Homo sapiens: one gene and its partners. The protein of the gene in region 2 interacts with the protein of the main gene of each other region in a pairwise test. Each region holds a gene or a part of one and is shown on either strand. Other genes may lie near its edges.

Evidence for each region. Proteins that work in one complex are often made in the same cells at the same time.
Region 1: the proteins of CISD2 (region 2) and MAN2B2 interact in binary tests that used the Homo sapiens proteins (3 or more experiments, as listed by UniProt).
Region 3: the proteins of CISD2 (region 2) and HHATL interact in binary tests that used the Homo sapiens proteins (3 or more experiments, as listed by UniProt).

What each region holds. Positions count from the first base shown.
Region 1 is NC_000004.12:6,571,243-6,578,188, forward strand, and holds the start of MAN2B2 (epididymis-specific alpha-mannosidase isoform 1 precursor), read left to right. Parts: upstream 1-3,946; 5' UTR 3,947-3,968; coding exon 3,969-4,106; intron 4,107-5,335; coding exon 5,336-5,482; intron 5,483-6,946.
Region 2 is NC_000004.12:102,878,991-102,886,094, reverse strand, and holds part of CISD2 (CDGSH iron-sulfur domain-containing protein 2), read right to left. Parts: intron 1,047-7,104; exon of another isoform or gene 880-1,046; coding exon 665-879; intron 1-664. UniProt on the Homo sapiens protein: Regulator of autophagy that contributes to antagonize BECN1-mediated cellular autophagy at the endoplasmic reticulum.
Region 3 is NC_000003.12:42,692,799-42,699,798, forward strand, and holds part of HHATL (protein-cysteine N-palmitoyltransferase HHAT-like protein), read right to left. Parts: coding exon 6,960-7,000; intron 6,348-6,959; coding exon 6,234-6,347; intron 6,105-6,233; coding exon 5,910-6,104; intron 5,554-5,909; coding exon 5,344-5,553; intron 4,882-5,343; coding exon 4,710-4,881; intron 4,348-4,709; coding exon 4,203-4,347; intron 4,080-4,202; coding exon 4,044-4,079; intron 1,047-4,043; coding exon of another isoform or gene 1,021-1,046; coding exon 819-1,020; intron 421-818; coding exon 279-420; intron 78-278; coding exon 1-77.

The sequences.
Region 1 (6,946 bases), about 96 Mb from region 2:
ACACCAGTCACGCCAGGCTACTCATGTCAAGACACCAGTAGGCAGGGGAAGAGTCACCCATCGAGCAGGGGCAGTTGACCTGAACCATCAGAGGAGGTAGGGTTGCTGTCACACAATGGAAGCAGAGAAGACTGTGTGCCACCCACATGGGTGTCCCTCAGGACTCTTTCACCTGATGTAGTCAGCAAATAGGCAAGTGAGCAGCTATGGCTCAAGAAGGGAATGGTCACCAGGGGCTCATCCTCGTTGGTGAGGATCTGGGGCAACCCACCAGGTAAGCTATCTAGTCCAGCATGGGTCTAGCTGAGGGTGAAAGGGATCTGAATGAATAATCCAGGAGGGGGTTGTGAGTATCACCTTCAAGCCTGAGACTAGCTGCAGCAAGAGCTCACGCAAGAGCCTTGAGGAAAGTACAAATGAAACCCTACACAGCTGTGATACAGTGGGCAGGAGAGAAAATGACATGAGGTCTCACATGTTGTTGTAGTCAGATGGGGGGCTGGAGCTGAAACAGCATGGTGATCTTGAGCTGCTCCCTGTGGTCTGCCCCATGTGGGCTGGTTGGGCTTCCTCACAGCATGGTGGCCTCAGGGTAGTTGGACTGCTGACAGGGCAACTCAGGCCTCCAGGCACGAGTGCTCCAGTGAACATGGATGTCATGGAAGTCACACAGTACAACTTTCACTACATTCTCTTTGTAACAAGTGTGTCACAAGCCCGCCCATGGGCCAGGCACAGTGGCTTATGCATGTAATCCCAACACTTTCGGAGAATCCCTTGAGGCTAGGAGTTTGAGACCAGCCTGGGCAACATAGAGAGATCTTGTCTACAAAAAAGAAAAGAAAAATTAGTTGGGCATGGTGGCATACACCTATAATTTCAGCACTTTGTGAGATGGTGGTGGGAGGATGCCTCGAGCCCAGGAGTTCAAGATCAGCCTGGGCAACATAACGGGATATTATATCTAAAAAAAAAAGAAAAAAAAAAGTTTTCATTAGCCAGGCATGATGGCACATACCTGTGGTCTCAGCTACTCAGGAGGCTGAAACAGGGGGATCACGTGAGCCTAGGAGTTTGAGGCTGAAGTAAGTTAGGAGTCCACCACTGCACTCTGGCCTGGGCAACAGAGCAAGACTCTATCTCTAAAAAACACAAAAATTAATAAAATAAAAAACAATAAATAAACAAGATTCAATGAGAGGAGACATAGACCCTATCTCCTAATAGGAAGAATGTCAAGATCATATTGTAAATCAAAAATAAAATTATAAGCCCCAGCTGAGAGAATGGACCCCCTGTCGGCCAAGGGGACCCCAAAGAAACCCAAAAAACTAGTTCAGGCCATGATGGGAAGTGGGAGGTCACACATGCCTCATCATAGCCTCCTCCCTTTAAGTTTCGGCACAGCTGACCAGCATTAACATTAACATAGAGATCCTCCTAAGACTGACAGAACACTTTTGTAGCAATCAGATACCCGATTCTAACATGACTCTGGTATAGCAACACACGACAGAGAGCAGGCCCTAAAGGAAATCAAAGTATTTTACCCCAAAATAAATTTTCTTTGACATATTTTGAAATGGACTTGCAAAGTCATCTCTTGTGGGGGAAACTTGCATTCTGTAGAGAATCTCCTTACTTACTAGCTCTTTTCCAGAGAGTCTGATACCTTTTAAGGTCCCCAGAGACATGCACATCTATTCTCTCTGAAGCCTGCTAACTGGAGGCTTCATCTATGTAACAAGAACCTTAGCTTCCACATCCCCATTGTCTTAACTCAAGCATTTCTTTCTGCCGACTCCAACTCTTCAGGTAAAGCTTAACTCTTTTAACCAATTGCCAATCAGGAAATCTTTGAATCCTCCTCTGACCTGGAAGCACCACCCACCCACTTCAAGATGTCCCACCTTTCTGGGCCAAACCAATGTATACTTTACATATATTGATTCATGTCTTTGCCTGTAACTTCTGTCCCCATAAAATGTATAAAGCTATAGCCCAACCACCTTGGGCACCTGTTCTCAGGACCTCCTGAGGCTGTGTCACAGGCCATGGTCACTCCTATTTGGCTTAGAATAAACGTTCTGAGATATTTTAGAGTGTGGCTTTTCTCGTCAACCAAATTCTACAAAGAGCTTGGGGGGTGGGTAATGTTGTGGAGCCCATCTTTGGCAGATACAGTCTGCCAAAGATTGTGACACTGCCTTATCGATAAACTCAGTGGCTTAACACAATTAAAGCTTATTTCTCCCTCTTGTCACAGCTCTTTGGGTTCCTCATGGTTCCATGTGGTTCTTCAGAGCCTCCATTGGTGGCTCTAACCTCCCTGAGGTCCTCGGAGTGCCCTCCACTGGAGCAGTGGGTGAGTAAGAGAGCAGGGCTCACCCACAGGAGGTTGTTAGGGGCCAGCCTGGAAGAGGAGCACAGTGCCCGCCCCCACCCATCCCATTGACTAGCACTTAGCCACGTGGCCGCACCTGGTTGCAGAGGCTGGAGAGTGGAGCCCAGCTGTGAGCCTGGCCGGTCATGGGGACATGTGTTAGTGAGTACTGTCCACGTCAGGCTCAGACCATCTGACCTGAGGCTATGGGGATGCAGGGGTCCCCAGGGGGTGGACAGGACAGAAGGAGGAGGGAGACCTGCTTGGAGAACCTGTTCTCAGTTTCCATTTGTTACATAATGGACAAGAGGACCAGCACTTTTGCTCAGAGCTGCAGCTCTGGTTCCGCTAGGAAATGCCAGGCAGGGGCACAGCCAAGTGGTTCTCAGACAGTAAACCCCAAGCCACAGACCCTTGCTTTCTTGGGCAGGGAGTAGTGGACAGGGCTGACTCCAGGCAACAGTCCCAAACAGGCTGCACCAATGTGACCGCACCTCCCCTGAGTGCAGGCAAGGGGTGCTGTGCTCACGCTCTCAGCCTGGGTGCATCCTTACTTTGTTCACAGCTCCTCTATCGGACCCATTTCACTGAGGCTCAGCGAGGTTACCTATGTCGCCCCAGGTCACCATCCAGTAACCCAGAAAGCTTCTCTTGGCTCCTCCACTAACTGCGTGATCTTGGACAAGTCAGTTACTGTCTCTGAAAGCCAGTTCTCCTCCTTAAAATGGAGACAGTTGAGCCAGGCATGCTGGTTTATGCCTGTAATCCCAGCACTTTGAGAGGCGGAGGCAGGAGGATCGCTTGAGCTCAGGAGTTTGGGACCAGCCTGGGCAACATAGTGAGGCCCCCATCTCTATAAATTTTTTTTTTAATTAGCTGGGTGTGGCAGTGTGCCCCTGTGGTCCCAGCTACTCAGGAGGCTGAGGTGGGAGGATCACTTGGGCCCGGGAGGTCAAGGCTGCAGTGAGCCCTGATCGCGCCACTGCACTCCGGCCTGGGAGACAGAGTGAGATCCTGTCCAAAAAAAAAAAAAGGAGACAGTCCCATAACAAGCCCCCCATGGCGCCGCCCAGATGGGGTTTCGACGCCAGGGAGAGGAGGGAAAGGGTTATCAGGGAAGGTTCCTGGTGGCAGAGCTCACAGGGTCCGTGCTGAGCCGAATTTTGCACGGTAGCCTCAGAGTCCCGGAGCCGAGTCCAGAGGGCGGGATGCAGGTATTGCGAAGAGGCACACGCTCCGAGAGGAACCACCAGAGCGTGGGCTTTGGGCGAGGAGGGGTCTCCTCTGGTTGGGGGAGATCTGGCAGGCTTGGGGGAGATGGGGCTGAAAGGATGGACAGGGAGGGAAGGCCAGAAAGCTGGAGACGGGGATGGAGAGCTAAACCGCAAAGAGCAGGCGCCCTGCCCCGCTGAGGGCCCCGCGCCTCCAGCTCCTCCTTCCCGAGCTTCCCGGGGTCGGCGTCCAGCCGGCAACCAATGGGCCCCGCCCCCGCCCGCAGCCAATGGGCCGCGTCCCCGCCCGCGCGGCCGCCCCGCCCCTCGCGGACCCGGAAGTGGGCCTGGCACCTTCCCGGCCTGCCGCAGGGATGGGGCAGCTGTGCTGGCTGCCGCTGCTGGCACCGCTCCTGTTGCTGCGACCGCCAGGGGTCCAGTCCGCCGGCCCCATCCGGGCCTTCGTGGTGCCCCACAGCCACATGGACGTGGGCTGGGTCTACACTGTGCAGGTAGGTGCCGACCACGCCCCGCGCGCCCCTGAGGCTGCAGCTTCCCTCTCCCCGCGGGATCTGAGTGTGGGTTTGCGTCCCGGGGCCCGATGCCGGCGCAGAAGGAGGCTCAGTGGGTTCAGGACCCCACGCTGCCATTGACTGGTTGCGTCGCTAACTTCGGGCCAGTCACTTCCTGCCTCTGAACCCCCATTTCCCCTTCTGGAGGGTGGTGCAGATTGGAGGGACCCCTGCATTCCCGGCTGGGGAGGGGCTTGGGGGTTGACAGTGGTAACCCATTTTCCAGGGAAGCCTGGAGCAGGAGAGGGTGGGGCTGGCTTCAGAGCAGGTGGATGTCAGGTGCCCGCTGGGAAGGGGCCGGGCTGGTCCCCTGCGGGGCTGAATATTGGAGGCCAGCTCAGCGTCCTCCGCCCCCCAGGACAGGGGTGAAGGTGGACCTGTGGTCACCTCCTGGTTCTGCTCAGGACCTTGGGCGAGGGGCTTTGGTCCCTAAGCCTCAGTTTCCCCATCTGTAAAGGGTAGGGGAAGCATGCCCACTACAGCCAGTTTCCAGAGGAGAAAACCGAGGCCCAGAGAGGGTTGCTGCCTTGCCCAAGGTCGCTCGGGAATAACCCTCATGCCTCCTGACTCCCTGCTCGGTGCTCCTTCCATTCATGTAAGCACTCTGTGGGCACCCTGTGTGCAGGGCCCTCGGGACTCGGATGGGAACACACTACAGCTGTGGTCCTTGGAGCTCCCAGCCTTGGGGAGGCAGACGCCTAGACGCCAGGGACAGCCTGGGGAGCTCTTCCTCTCAGCACCAGCTTTCCTCATTTCAGCCCCAGCAGGCCCCTTTGGGGTCACTGGACCACACCCCGACTGAGGCCTAAGACTTTCCTGTGCTGCCCCTCAATGGCACACTCAGGGCCCAGCCCCCCAAATTGCACACTCAAGGCCCAGCTTGCTCACCCCTCTGAGAAACTGTCCCTGACCCCTGGGCTGGGAGGGCACCTGTCTCTGCCCATGTAGGGTGTCTGTTTCCCCGTCCCTCTCCCCCAGGAGAGCACGATCCCATCCAGTGGGGAGAGCCTGGTATGGAGCGAGTGCCTAATAGCTGTGTGGGGGGTGAGCAGCAGGGAAGGAAGGGCAGAGCCCCCAACCCCATGCAGACACACCTGGCGAATGGCAGGGGCCCCAGGGACACTTGGTCTTGTTGGACCGGGGCTGGCATGATGCTGTCCCCTCCCCAGGAAAGCATGCGGGCGTACGCCGCCAATGTCTACACCTCAGTGGTGGAAGAGCTGGCCCGCGGCCAGCAGCGCCGGTTCATCGCTGTGGAGCAGGAGTTTTTCCGGCTGTGGTGGGATGGCGTCGCCTCGGACCAGCAGAAATACCAGGTAATGAGGTCACCAGGTGACACAGTTGGCCCAGTATCCTGGCAAAGACCCAGGTGGAAAACTCAATGGGGCAGTTCTAGCCAGGGCCAGGGCCAGGCTGGCATAAACCACAGGGCCAAAACCCCACCGGGCTATTCACAGCCTTGTTTAGATCAAGGTTCACGGTGAGTTCCATGCCTGGGAGAGATTGCTTTCAATTTAATCCTGAATTTCTGTCTATTCTTGAAAAAACTGCCAGCTCTGGCAACCCAGCTGTGCACTTCCGTGCCAGCTGGCACTAAGTCAGCAGTGCCCCCTGACACCAGGCATCCCAGGTGTCCCCAAGCCCTCACCCTCTTCTCTCATTTGTGTTATCTGCCTGGCCCCCGGGCCCAGGGTCTGGTGACCCTTGATGAGGGTGCGATAGTCCCTGTGGTTTGAGGGTAGGCAGCAGGTTGCTTCATACAGCATGGAGAGTCAGAGTCCCCGCTGCACAGTGAGGCAGCCTGGGTCCCATCCTGCTCCCGCACCAGGGGACACGACTAGCCCCTGCGAGCCACAGATTCCACTTCTATTAAACGGGGGTGACCGCCCCATTGCAGAAAAGTCATGCCAAGAATGAAGCCCTGGCGTGAGCACCCAGGACGATACTCGGGGGTTCTTAGTTTCCTCCCAGGTATCCACCTGCCTTCAGAATAGTTGCTGAACATAAAGTTCAGGGACGCCAAGTGACTTGCTCAAGGGAGTGAAGCGGAGAAGGGAGAGCAGGGCGTCCACCAGGCCCCGCCAGAGTCACGGGAAGGAGCCGGACATCCAATGGCCACTTGATGCTGCCAGATAGTGGGGTTCTTACCTCAAGTTAAAGAGACATTCCAGGTTCAGAGAGGGCACGCCACTGGCCTGCAGTCACACAGCTTGTAAGCGGCAGGTGGGATTCTGAGCCAGGCATGCCTGACTCGAGGCAGGCCTTTCCAGGATATCCTGTGAGCGTCCCATGCTTCTTCAGGTGGACCCCACCAAACCCAGTGGTCTGTCTCCTAGCCCTCAAAGAGAAGCATGGCCTGCATGGCCCAGTGAAGACCTGGACAGGAAACTTGTGGCAGAGCTCCCTGGAGGCAGGAATTGTTGCCTGCTTCATTCACTGCTGAACCCCCAGTGCCTGAACAGTGCTGGTTGTGTAGTAGGTGCTCACTTAACATTTGTTGAGTGAATGATCTACATATAGTGCACCTTAAGAAACAAACCAAAGGCACAGCCTATAAACAGCTGTGTGTACACATACTGAGGTGTGTAGTGTCTAGGGCAACAAAGGTGTTATGTGTGTAGAGACGGGGATGTTAAGCAAATAGGTTAAAAATGGTAGTGATGAGTGAACCTTGGGAAAGGATATGGGAGCTCTTTGTTCTATTCCTGAAACTTTTCTAAAGTTTAGAATTAGTTAATAAAATAAGATTTAAGAAAATCTTATATATACAAATATATATC
Region 2 (7,104 bases):
TATCAGATATTTAGTTTATAAAAATTTTGCTATTACAAAGGATGCTGTGATGAGCAATACTGTATTAAAAACCTCAAATAATCTATGATCAAGTACAAGAAACAGATTTTGTCAACTACTTATAGTACTTATCACTCCAAACTCCTTCCCACATTAAAAATCATCTATAATTGAGGCTATCATTTACTACCTCATATTATTAAAGCAGTTTACATATATCATCTCACTTCTCAAAGATATGTAATGTGGATGTATCAGGTTAAAACAAACCCTGAAGATTAGAGATTAAAAATTAAGTAACTTGTCCAACCAAACTCATACTGTGACAAGTATATTTGACCACTATTTACTATGACACCAAAGCTTTTTTCCATTAAACCTTAGGTCCTCTCTCAAAGAATGTGTATTTTAAAATACATGTTACTCTACATAAATGCCAAACATTGCGAAGGCATTAGATTTTTATTCTTCTTTGCTGCTCCAACTTTTCTAATGTAGGTAGTATCTATCATGACATGAAAACTTCAATTTAGGAATATGGTCTTTCAATACCAAATATTACAGAAAATTCTCTCATCTTAAAGAACTTCAAAACTGGGGATTTAAGAGGCGAAACAATCCTAGCACTGCAAAATTTTAGTGTACACGTAAACAGACATCTTACCGTTTTAGAACGCCAACACCTACAATAAGCTGCTTTAGTAAGACACAAATCTTCAATGTTTATTTCATTCACTACTTTCGGATTTTCCTTTTGTATTTTAAGATTAATCAAGCTATCCTTCTGTTGTTTCTTCTTCGGGAGGAATGGACGAACTGCAAGGTAGCCAAGAAGTGCGAGTACACCAAGGAAAGGCAATAACCGAAGCCATTCTGAAACTAAACATGTAGATGTGTCAGAATCTGCAGTGCTCTTGGAAAAGAATTCAAAATAGCATGTCTAGTTTCATCCTTGAGCTTATTCTTTGTTACTTTTTACATTAATTCCTTTTTAATGGATCCATAAAACTGTGAATAAATAACACAATAAAGCCAGCTCTACCAAAGACCACCTTACTTTATTTATAATTTGAGACCAGTGAAACTAGAAACCTAACTTTTCAGAAATAGGTTCCATTTCAAATATCCTATCTCATTGTCTACATCAAGTCTATTTGTGTTTGTCTATTTTTATTTTAGGAGTTATGATCACTATAACTATAAACAAAATTCAATGTATATTTTATAAGTTAAGAAAACATTTTATCTCCTTAATACTATGTCAAAATCATACAACAGAATATCTGCAGAATTTTTACCACTGATTCATAATATCAGAGAGAACATGTCCTCTGATGCTTTAAGGTACATTTTTGGTAAATGTTGCTAAAGAACACTGAAATTTTGTGTAAAAGCTACTATTTTAAAGAACAAATTGAAACCTTCTATGTTGAATGTTCTCATTTTAAGATATATCTAATTCCATAAACTTCATTTAAAGCCTTTTGGAGTACCTAGCCTGTCTTAAGGGGACAGGGAATATAAGTGATACAAATGAAACAGTCCCTATGCATGTGGACACAAAAATACCAGGAAACCAAGATAAACATTTCAACATACATTTATCAAATGTCTGCTAGCACCCTGCCTCTGCTGGGCTCTTTTCTGTTCTTATAGAATTACCAGTTAACTTCCTTCACTGAATGCCGAATCTGATACCTTGCTAGGCACTATGTGGAAATAGCTTAGTTGAGAAAAGAGAAAAACAGAAAATAATATGCTAACTCATGCTAATAAACATTAAAGATAAATGAACAGGTTATGCTAAGAGTATAAGGGCACTAGCTCATTTAACACTATGTTAGCTTAAACAACTATATGTGGTAGGTATCATTATTATCCCCATTTTACATGTGAGAAAACTGTAGCCTAAGCAGGTTTAGTCCAGGACACCCTAAATCCAAAGCCTGTTGTCAGTTATCATGAATCAAACCCAATAGATCTAAAATTAAAATCTGTGCCTATCTTGGTAAAACTACTCTCAGGAGATAATAGTACTATTTAACTATTGAAAGAAAGACAATATGAACTCTTCCAAAATGGAATTATTTTTGATATAACATCATGCCAAAGAAATCTAAATGAAAAAACCTATTTATCTACCATTTTCATAGATAGCACCTATAAGAGTGGCTGGCAAAAAAGACACAATAAATGGTAGCTTTTATTCAGAGATTATAGAGATTGGTGAGGAAGTACTAGCAACTCCTTTGAAAAAAATATTTTGCCAAATAACTTGACAATGCTATATGGGCAAAAATCTTCAGGAATATAATCTTGTAGTTACCAGAATAAAACTCTGTAAAAGTATGAACTTTGTCTGCCATGCTGGCTGTTACATTCTCATAACCAAAGTGGAGACACTCCAAATAGGTTCTTTGAGTGAATTAAAGCTCTGGAGATAACACAGAACTGTTTTTGCGGGGAGAAGGAGGCCTAGGTATAAGATCTGTGCTATTCAATATGGGCACCACTAGCCATACTGTTTAGATTTGTACCCAACAGACTTGTAGAAACTGTCTTGAAATAACAGTTTATTACTTATAGTTCCCAAGAGGAGAGGATACACTATGCAATGCAGGGCCACATGAGAGGTACTAGGGTTGATCAGGAGGAAGAAAGAGGAAAGGGAAAAAGCATGGGCACAGGCCTTTACTGTGGTTTCCATGGAAAAGGCAAGGCAGGAAACTGTTCAGGACTGGCTAGCTTGAATAATTTCAGTGGGTTCTGGGCAAAAGTAGTGGTCCCTAGTCGTCTCCTACCTGTCCCTGGGGTGACTTAGGGCAGGAGAAATATTGACTGGAGAAATACTGACTTCATGTGTAAGGGTTAGATAAAGGAGGTGGTTGGGGGCATGGGCTTTGGATTGGTTGGTTTGCATATGAAAGGCATGCTCACAGGCAAGTTATTTAGTATCTCTAGGAATTAAATTGTCTCCACAGCCAACAAGGCTCCTAAGATATTAAAGCATAATAAAATACAGAAAATTGAAAACACGGTTAATATACACATGTGGGCGTGGTGGCTCATGCCTATAATCCCAACACTTTGGGAGGCTGAGGAGGGCAGATCACGAGGTTAGGAGTTCAAGACCAGCCTGGCCAACATGGCGAAACCCCGTCTCTAATAAAAATACAAAAAATTATCCAGGCGTGGTGGCAGGCGCCTGTAATTCCAGCTACCTGGGAGGCTGAGGCAGGAGAATCGCTTGAATTCAGGAGGCAGGGGTTGCAGTGAGCCGAGATCATGCCATTGCACTCCAGCCTGGGTGACAAGAGCAAGACTCTGTCTCAAAAACAAAACAAAACAAAACAAACACATGTGGCTATTCACATGTAAATAAATTAAAATTAAGTAAAATGTAAAATGCTGTTTCTAAGACACACTGGTAACCTTTCAGAGGCTCAATAGCTAGCTACATGTGACTACTGACTACCATATTGAACAGTACAGAGAACATTTCCATTACCACAAAGTTTTACTGGACAATGCTACTATAGATCATTGGCTCTATAAGGTGCCATCTCCAAAGAATGGCAAGGCTACCTTTCCAGCTTCAACTTCCACAAACATGGTCTCTTCATGTACCTGAGGCCAGCGAAAGCTACTGTCTAGTAAGCAGCCTTTTTGAGTTCTTTGCATATGGAGTTCCTTCTGTTTTATCTGACTAATTATCTTAGCTTGCAATTGGCCCCAGCATCCAGTATGTAACTCGAAATAGCAGTCATTAAATGTTTGTTCAATGTAGAATAACATTAAGTATTATTGTACATATTACAATATTTTAGAAGTCATAAGAGCTTAAATTTATCAAAAAGCGAGTGAATGGGAACGCAAAGATGAAAATCTTATTTATTTATTTTTGAGACAGGGTTTCACTTCCATTGCCCAGGCTGGAGTGCAGTGGTGTGCTCTTGGTCACTACCACCTCCACCTCCCGGGCACAAGCTATCCTCCTGCCTCAGCCTCCCAAGTAACTAAAACTGCAGGAGCACACCACAACGTCTGGCTAATTTTTGTATTTTTAGTAGAGATGGGGTTTCACCATGTTGGCCAGGCTGGTCTCAAACTCCTGACCTCAAGTGATCCGCCTGCCTCAGCCCCACGAAGTCCTGGGATTACAGGTGTGAGCCACCATGCCTGGTTGAAAACCTTAATGTTAGACTCTTAAATATAGCATTTCCTATCTTAACCCACAAACCTCAAGAACAAATGGTATTACTACTGTTTTAAAATCCACTTCAGAAAATATTCTTTTGAACACTTAATTCCTTGGTAAAACACTATGCTTAAAAATACAGTGATGAGAGGTACTATTACCTCCTACAACAAAGTAATAACTTACCAAAGTCTTAACATAATCTACTTTTTAAAGATAACCAACTACAATTTAACTACTGAAAAACTTTATACATGAAAGCAATACAGCTTGAAAAGCTCAATTCAAATGACTGTAAGTACATTTATTCAGGCTGTTTTTGTACTGATACATAATAACTGTACATATTTATGGGGTACAAGTGATATTTTGCTACATGCATACATGCATATGATGTGCAATGATCAACTCAGTGTAACTGGGATATTCGTCACCTCATTTATCATTTATTTATATTGAGAACATTCCAAATTTTCTCTCCTATTTTGAAATATACACTAAAATTACTGATAACAATAGTCACCCTATTATGCTATTGAATACTAGAACTTTTTCTATATAACCGTACTATAGTGCCCATTAACCAACCTCTCTTCATTCTCTCCCTCCCTACCCTTCCTGGCCTCTGGTAACTACCATTTGACTATCTCCATGAGATCAACTTTTTTAGTTCCCACATATGAATGAGTACATAGAATATTTCTCTGTCAATTAAGGCTGATTTTATATGAAGAAAGATAAAATACAGAAGAATCAAACAAGAAACTTAAAAAAAATTTTACATGTGCTAGTCTCTATAGATCTGTTTGATATATGTTCAGCTATTACAGATATTTTAGATACTTTGAAAGGAAAATATTACTAACTGTAAATAATGTGCAAAAAAAATTTTTTTTTTTTTTTTTTGAGACAGCGTCTCGCTCTGTTTCCCAGGCTGGAGTGTGTGTCGTGTTAGCTCACTGCAATCTCCACTGCCCGGGTTCAAGCGATTCTCGTGCCTCAGTGACCTCCCGAGTAGCTGGGATTATAGGCGCACGCCACCACACCCAGCTAATTTTTGTATTTTAGTAGAGATGGGGTTTCACCGTGTTGGTCAGGTTGGTCTCAAGCTCCTGACCTCAGGTGATCCACCCACCTTGGCCTCTCAAAGTGCTGGGATTACAGGCGTGAGCCACCGTGCCTGACCAAATAAAATAATTTAAAATATATTTTTTTTTTAATGAGATAGTCTCACTCTGTCACCCAGGCTGATGTGCAGTGGCATGATCTTGGCTCACTGCAACCTCTGCCTCCCAGGTTCAAGTGATTCTTGTGCCTCCGCCACCCAAATAGCTGGGATTATGGACGTGCGCCACCACACCAAGCAAATTTTTGTATAAAATAATGTATTTTATTCAGCATATTATTTATTTTTGTCTTAGGATTATAAAAAATAACATTTATGTATTTATTTGGTAAATGTATCTCTTTTTTGGTATGTAAATACATAGGCTGTAAATGCTTAAAAAATAAGGCTATATTGCATTTTTCACTTAATGGTATGTCAGATTATTATATTATTTCCCCAACTCCTTAATATCAGTTGGAAACATAAATTTTAATGGCTGCATCTACCTATCATGTTCCCCACTCACAATATAAGAGATACAAGGGGGCTGGGCGTGGTGGCTTACGCCTGTAATTCCAGCACTAAGGGAGGCTGAGGTGGGCAGATCACTTGAGGTCAGGAGTTCGTGACCAGCCTGGCCAACATGGTGAAATCCCAACTCTACTAAAAATACAGAAAATTAGCTGGGCATGGTGGCACACGCCTGTAATCCCAGCTACTCAGGAGGCTGAGGCAGGAGAATCACTTAAATCCCGGAAGTGGAGGTGGCAGTGAGGTAAGATCTCACCACTGCACTCCAGCCTGGGAGACAGAGAAGAGACTCTATCTCAAAAAAATAAAAAAAATAAAAAATAAAAGAAAAAGAGAGATACAAGGGCAGGGACCTTATTTGTCTGATCATCTGTGTCCCCAGTGTCTATATAACGTCTGGCTCAATTTATTTAACTTACTTTTGTTTGAAGTGTTTAATTTACAGTTCAGTTTATTGAGCTTTGTGCTTTTTGTTTGTTTGTTTTTGAGATGGAGTCTCGCTCTGTCGCCCAAGCTGGAGTGCAGTGGCATGATCTTGGCTCACTGCAACCTCTGCCTCCCGGGTTCAAGCGATTCTCCTGCCTCAGCCTTCTGAGTCACTAGGATTACAGGTGCCTGCCAAAACGCCCTGCTAATTTTTATATTTTTAGTAGAGATGGGGTTTCACCATGTTGGCCAGGCTGGTCTCAAACTCCCATCTGCCTGCCTCAGCCTCCCAAAGTGCTGAGATTACAGGCATTAGCCACCGCACCTGGCCAAGCTTTGTGTTTGTGAAGCGCTCAGTTTGATGAGTTTTGTAACTATATGGACCTATAAACACCACCTAAGACAAAATACATTTCCATTGCCCCAGAAAGTTTGCTCTTGTAGTACTTTCCCAATCAATCCCCCCCTTCTGATTTTTATTAAGTGCTTACTAAACATTTTCTGAAAGAATAAATCAATTTCTCATTGTTAAACAAATTTTTACTATATAATTATTACTATAAAAATTAAATATTTACTATATAATTATTAAGTATCTACTAATATGGTTTGGCTCTGTGTCCCCATCCAAATCTCATCTCAAATTGTAATCCCATAATCCCCACGTCAAGGGAGGAACCTGGTGGTTGGTGATTAAATCATCAAGGCAATCTCCCCCATGCTGTTCTCCTGATAGTGAGTTCTCATGAGATCTGGTTTTAAAATGGGCTCTTCCTGCTTTGCTCTTCACTCTTCTCTCCTGCCTCGTGAAAAAGGTGCCCCTTCCACCATAATTGTAAGT
Region 3 (7,000 bases), on a different chromosome or scaffold from region 2:
GGTTCGCTCACGCTCCTTTACCAGCTGGACGCCACAGTAGGTGACAAACAGGATGGACAGCGTGGTCTGGGGGAACCCTGTGTGGGGAGGGAGTCATAGATGCTCAGGAGCAGCACTGCATCCTCAGCGACTTTTGTCTTCCCACCCCTCTCCCCGCTTGATGGGCCCTCCCTTCTGAGTCCCAGGGGTGATGAGGGAGATAGGAGGCATTTTGGAAGGTCACGGTCCTTGAGGCTGATGCCTGGCACCTTCTGTATCCCCACACCCCTGTCCCTCACCTGTGAGTAGCAGGCGCCGGGCAACCAGCTCTGTGAATTTGAGGCTGTTCAGGCTCACAAGGTTGTACATGATGATGGCCCAGAAGTTCATGGCTCCAAACAGGGCCCGGACCCTACGGGACATCTGCACTGACAGAGAGGCCTATCCGGTCCAGGAAAGCATGGGCAGCGGGACAAGAGGCCAAAGGAAAGAGGACATGGTGGGTCAGCAGCCTTACCCACCTGGCCAGTCAGGTCTTGGGGCTATGTCTGGGTCTCGGAGAGCCCCAGGTCAGCTCTCCCTCCTTGTTAAACATGGGGAAACAGGTCCAGAGAGAGGACAAGGCCTGACCAACATGGCAAGGCCCAGGTGCTCCATTCCTCATAGAAGGGAGGGAGGGGCAGATTCCTACAGAGTGAGCCATTGCTCTGACAACTAAGAGGGTGGTGGTGAGAAAGTTCTGGATTAGGGGCCAGGTGTTTGGACAACTCCAGAAAGCAGCAGTGCCCCCCCGCCCTCTATGACCCAGCCAGTCCCAGCCCCAGGTCTTCCCTGCTCACCTCAATTCGTGCTAGGGGCCCCCACTCTGCCAGTTTTTGCATCCAGAGCTCAAAGTTGAGGCCAAAGCAGTTAAGGAATGACCACAGGTAGACAATGTCACAAGGCCCAAGCCACAGTGTGGTGATGGCAAATGTGGCCACTGTGGCTGCCAGCTCTGGGATCACAGCGGAATGCTCCCCACCAATGTGGTTATACACATATCTGCAGGAAAGATGGGAGAAGGGCCACTGGGAGTGTGGGAAAGGGCAGGGATGAGATGGGAGAGGACACACAACAGGGCGTCCTCCTCAACACTGTCACCCTGGGTGCATTCAACATTCCTGACCTCACGTAGCAGCTCCTCCTCCAACCAACTTCAAATTGTGGCAGGCTCAGCCTGGGACATTATAGCTTCTCTATCTCTGTTCGTTTACTTCCCAAATGATCTCATCCAGACCCAAGATTTCAAGTACTAGCTCTATGACGATGACCCCTAAATCTGTGTCTTTAGCCCAGTCTCTCCTGATTTGTATATGCAATTGCTACTAGCCATGTCACTTGATTGACAGATTCCCCTATCCCTGCTCAAACCCAGCTCCGTCCTCATCTCAGTGAATGGCACCACCATCCATTCAGTTGCTCAGGGTATAAGCCTTGGTGCCATCTTGGATTCTCAGTTTGCCTCATCACCCACATCCAAGCAAGCCAGCAAATTCTGTTGGCTCCTCTCAGTCCTGACCACCACTCACCTCCTCTACCACCACCACCCTAGTCAAGATGATCACTCTTCTCACATAAATTATTGCAAGAGCCTCTTAAGTGGTCTTCTTGTTTCTGCTTTTGCCCCCATGGTTCATTCTCCACACAGCAGCCAGAGGCATCTTTTAAGAGTGTAGCTCAGGTCACATCACTTCCATGATTAACCTCTCTGAATAGCTCCCCATTACAATAGGAATAAACTCAGTCTCTTTACTCTGGCTAGAAGATCCCAAGTGGTCTGGTTTCTGTTCCCTTCCTGACCAAATCAGCCACCATGCTCCCCCAGTTCATCATGCTGGCCTCACTGGCCTTTCTTACCTTTACACCCACACAGTTGGTTTGTGTCTCAAGGCCTTTGCCCTTGTTGTTCCCTCTACCTGGTATTCTCTGCTCCACATCTCCTTATCACTCAAATCTCAATTCAAATATCATCTCCTCAGAGAAGCCTGCCTAGACCCCGACTAAAGAAGCTTCTACCCTGTTGTCAACTTCTATCCCATTGCAATTTTATTTTCTTCATAACACTTACCACTCTCTAAAATTATCTTATTTATGTTTGTTTACCTGTTTATGGTCTGTTTCTCCCCACTAGACTGTAAGCTCCATGAGTTCAGGGTCTTTGCCATGTTCACTGCTGTATCCCCAGTGCCTAGAACAATGCCTGGCACATAGGTGCTCAATAAATATTTGTTAAATAAGTTCTGTGGAAGACCCAGGAATAACCAGCCTCTCCATTCCTCGACCTCCTCATTTCCAATGGCTTTTTCTCCACTCCACCTCAGCCACCCACACCCATGGCCATGCCCCAACTTTGTCACCACTTGAAAGTTCACTCCTTTCTAATTCCCATTCTTTGCCCAACTCCTCTTGACCTCCTGGCCCCCCAGCTTCAGTTCTTCAATCCCATTGATCTTGTGACCCTCCCACCTTCACCACCGTCCTTAGCAGGCTTATATCCAATGAGTCATGACTATAAATAATCTAAAAACCCTTATTCCTGACTTCTTCCTTGTCATCCATCTGGGAGAGCCCAATCACTTACTTTCTCCTCAGCTACACCCAGGCAGCTAAGCCCCATGGGGGAAATCTCACATCTTCACATGCTGGAGTTCATAAGCCCACCACCTCCAATACCACCTGGGTACTCAGTGCCAAGATTTCTCTAGTCAGCTGCTTCTCCCTTGCTCTGCAAGGGCCACTGTATTCTTATCTCCCCACAAGTATGAGTGGAGAGATAGTATGAGTGGGGGGATCCAGGCTGGGTTGTGGGGGTAAGCATATATGTTGCCTCTCTCCACGTCCCTGTCCTGGCTTTCTCAGCTGATGGCCGTGCCTCCTGCTTCATGGACAAGGCTGAAGCCTTCAGGTGGAATCCCTTACTTGTCTACATTAACCTGCTTTCCTCTGCATCCACACTGGCTTCTCTTCCTCCTCCTCCCACTGAAGCCAGGCCTCCGCCTGGAACTAGACACCCTCACCTCCTTCCTCTTCAGGGACCTCACTCCATCAATCACCCCTGTATCCTGCATCCCCAGCTTCTCTGTTGAATAATTCTTCTTAGCATGTCCCATTCTCTCCTATCTTTAACACATCCCTCTTCTCCCTCAGCCACTCCTGTCTTCCCCCTGCAGTCCCAGGCTTCTTCCAGGAGTCATCACACACTTCTCTACTCCTCAGTTGACTTTCCCTCCTTACCTGCTCCTGCCTTGCCCATGAAAGGCTGAAAACCTCCATGTCACCAGCACTAATCCTCGGTCTCCAGCTTCCTTGAGGCTCAGTGGCATCTGACCAAGCTGTCCCCACCATGCCTGGATGGTCTTCCCTTGGCTTCCAGGGTGGCACATGACCTTGATTCTTCTCCTGCCCCTCCAACTACTCTTTCCAGTCCTTTCTGCTGGCTCCTTTTCCTTCCAAGCAGAGCTCTTGCAGGCTGAATCTCGGCCATCCCCGTCTCTCCTCTTCTCACACCACTCCCTCTCCTGAGGACTTACCCACTCCCAAAGCCTAAAAACCACCTGCCCACACTCAGGACGCTCTGAGTTCCATCAGTCCTCTGGACCCTCAGAAACCCAGACCCTCAGACCCAACCACCTCCCTGAACCTCCACAGGGATGTCTCCTAGATTGCGACTATACATTTCTTAAACTGAAGCCCTCTCTGGAAACTGCCCTCCATCCTCCCAGGCTGCAGACAGCAATTTGAGCGTCATCTCCTTCTCCTTCCCAACACCCACAGTTCATGGCCACGTCCTGTTCAGGCTGCTGACTGTGTGACCCTCCTCCCACCACCTCTCTCCACCTCGAGGGCCCTCACTTAAATCCTAACTTCTATATCTTTCACCCAGACCTCTGCCAATACCTCCTCACTGCCCTCTTTGCTTCCCCTGGCCCAGGGGTGATCTTTTAAAATGTGGACCCATCTTGGCACTGCCCTGCTCAGACACCTGGCAGGATGGCTGTGACCACCCCCACCCCACTCCTACTCACTTGCAAAGCCAGTCGTTGATGCCACGGTCAAAGTGCCTGTAAGAGGAAAGCAGATGGGCATGTTGCCATCAGGCGCAGAGCTCCCCAGGCATGGGGGAAGAGGCTAGGGGAAGGTGTGGTCCCAGGGGGTGAGCCTCCCCCGTCCTGGCCAGCACTCACGTTTCCGCAAAGACGTAGAGTGCGGTGATGCACTTGGGAGGCTGGGGTGGGTCCAGGTGGTCGAGGCATGCCACAGTGTTGACAACACCAAAGAGGACGGCCGCCTTCACCCAGTCATACACCAGGTTTGAATAGGCTAGGCCAGCTGGGGGCAGGGCACTGTCACTGCCTGGGGTCCAATCGCCTGGGGCCTGCCCCCATGAAGACCCTGTCCCACCACTTCCTTGGGGAGACACCAGGCTCTGCCCGCCCCACGGAGACCCCCCCATATTGTGGAAATCAGTCATGCCTGGTGAAGTGGGTGGGGTCCGTGGGATGCTGCTCTGGCCCCACAGGATGAAGCTAATGCCAAGACCCATGCATTAGAAAGAATAAGCCCCTGCTCCCACGCCCTCAGGTGCTGTGCCCTGCGTGCCTCAGCTCCCCTGACTGTGGCACCGTGGGGGTGCAGAGGGTCTGTTTTCCTGGGGCGGCAGCCCTGCCCCCATTTCTCTTCTGTGGACCCACCGAGGGCACTGTCTGGGAGGCGGTTGGCGAACTTGAGGTCGCTGGGGATAGTGAGGATGTAGAAGAAGTGAAAGAAGATGTCGACGGCCATGATGGCCACCACGCTTAGGCCTGCCTGGGCTCGGATGTGCCACAGCTCACCCTCGCGTCTCACTGGCTCCACCTGGCTCACCTGGGGGGATGCGAAGGGTCTGAGGGAAGAGGCAAGCCCTGCCTGGGGAGCCCTGTCTGAGGGGGGCTCACCAACTACTTGGGGCAGGAGGAGCCATGGCTTTATCCAGGAGTCCTGCCTGAGGGTGGAGACAGAGGTCACCCTGGAGTCTGAGGAGGATTCACAGCCAGCCATGGGAGACCCAGTTCTGTCCTGGGAGCCCCATTTGAGTGGGAAGGGAACATTCGTGGCCTGGGAGTCCTGTCTGAGAAAAGAGACATGTCTCCACCCTGGGGTCCCTGCTGGAGGGGAAAGGTGGCCCCATCCTGGGGTCTGAGGAGGGAGGGGAGACACGGCTTCATCCTGGAATCATGCCTGAGGATGGGGATACAGCCTGCTTGGGGAATTCTATCTGAGATGGAAACCCCAATCTGAAAAGGGAGATTCAGCCCTGTTCTAGAAGCCCACAGGGTGTCCCCTCACCTGAGCATGGAAGCGATCAAAGGTCATGATGGGCCCGAAGAAGAAGAAGGGCAGGTAGAAGTTGTACTTGAGCAGGTCAGCTAAGGAGTAGTGGCGGTCAGGGTGGGCACAGCTCTCCAGTGCAAAGCTGGTGCAACGCAGCACTGTGAAGCTGCTGCCCCCATGAAACAGCACCTCTTGAAGATCAAAAGTGCCTGTTACAAACCCGCTCTGGAGGGGGAAAGAACAGGCCACCAGCTCACTAGGGTGCCTCCTGTCTCTGGAAAACCTATTCCCCACTCCCTAGCTTCCCACAGGGGCCCAGCCTGGTCCTGTCCCTTCCTCTCTTCCAGAGCCAGTTAACTTTGGCCACTGCTCTATCCCAGCAATGCGAGGAGCAGGGGATGATCTGGATAGTTCCTCCTGTGATGCAGGTGCTCACCTTGTGGCCAGGACATACCCAAAGGCTTGAAGACAGGTGGAAAGTGAAGGGAATACTTGGGGATACTTGGGGTGCAAGGACTTTGGATGAAGTGAGAGGTTTGGGATCTTATCCCTACACCCTCTACCCCTGCACCAGTTCACACCTGCCAAGAGATTAGGGGGTCCATCTTGAAGGAGGCCAGGCTGGCCAAGCCAAGGCCAAGACAGAGCCAGGGCTGGCCCAAAAGCGAGGCCACATAGAGGCCCACACAGTGACCAAGCAGCAGCAGCAGGTACCAAGGGCCCATTGTGCCCATCACAGCCAAGGCCCCGTACACAGCATACATCCAGGAGCGGAGCTGTGGGCAGGGAGAAGGCTTCAGTTTCGCCATATAAATGGGGGCGTGACCCCAGGAGGGGGTTCCCACAACCCTTGTGGTGAAAGAGGAGCTGGCAGGGAGAGGCTGGGTGGCCCAGGTCCAGCTCACCTTTGGGGCAACCATCGTGCAGAGTTTAGCAAACAGCACATGTCCGGAGAGGGCAAAGATGATGACGTTGCGAAAGGAGGTGAACCACATCACCCACTCGAAGTCAGCCACATCCTGGGGCAGTCCGGGGCAGAAGGAGGTGGGGCAGGTGAGGGTGGGAGAGGGGACAGGACGAGCTGGAACCTGGGCTGGTCAGAGCCCCAGCACCTTTCCCAGCCTTCATGTTCTTCTTTTATTATTATCATTTTTAAATTTAATAATAATAATTATTTTTTACCACTAGCCAAACCCAACGTGTCCTCTTTATGCAAACACAAGAGCAGTGCCTGCAGGTCTCCACACTCCTCTGTGAAGGAAGTACCGAGGCAGGAGGGTAGAGAGGAGTGAAGGGCACCATGGGGGCTGCCGGGTCGCTTGAAGCTCCCCCTCTCCTCCGCACGTTGCCTGCCATTCCCCCTTTACTGCTTTGTTTCTGGGAAGGAGGTGCTGGAGGCTCCACTGAAGCACACTCCACTAATGCGACCTATTTCCCAAGTGAGCAGGGCCCGGGCAAACTTGATGTCCCAGGAGGATACAGGAGGGGCCAGTAAAGAAGCTGAAGGCACTGAAGCTCAAGCCAGAGGCCCCAGAGCTGTGAGAAGCTCTCTGTTACTTGCCAACATCTGGAACAGCAGAGAGCAGAGAAGGGTTCGGGATGGGAGGGACCCTGGGATGTGGGGGACCTACCATCTTCCGGCCAATGTACTCCCAGCCAGGTCGCACAGACT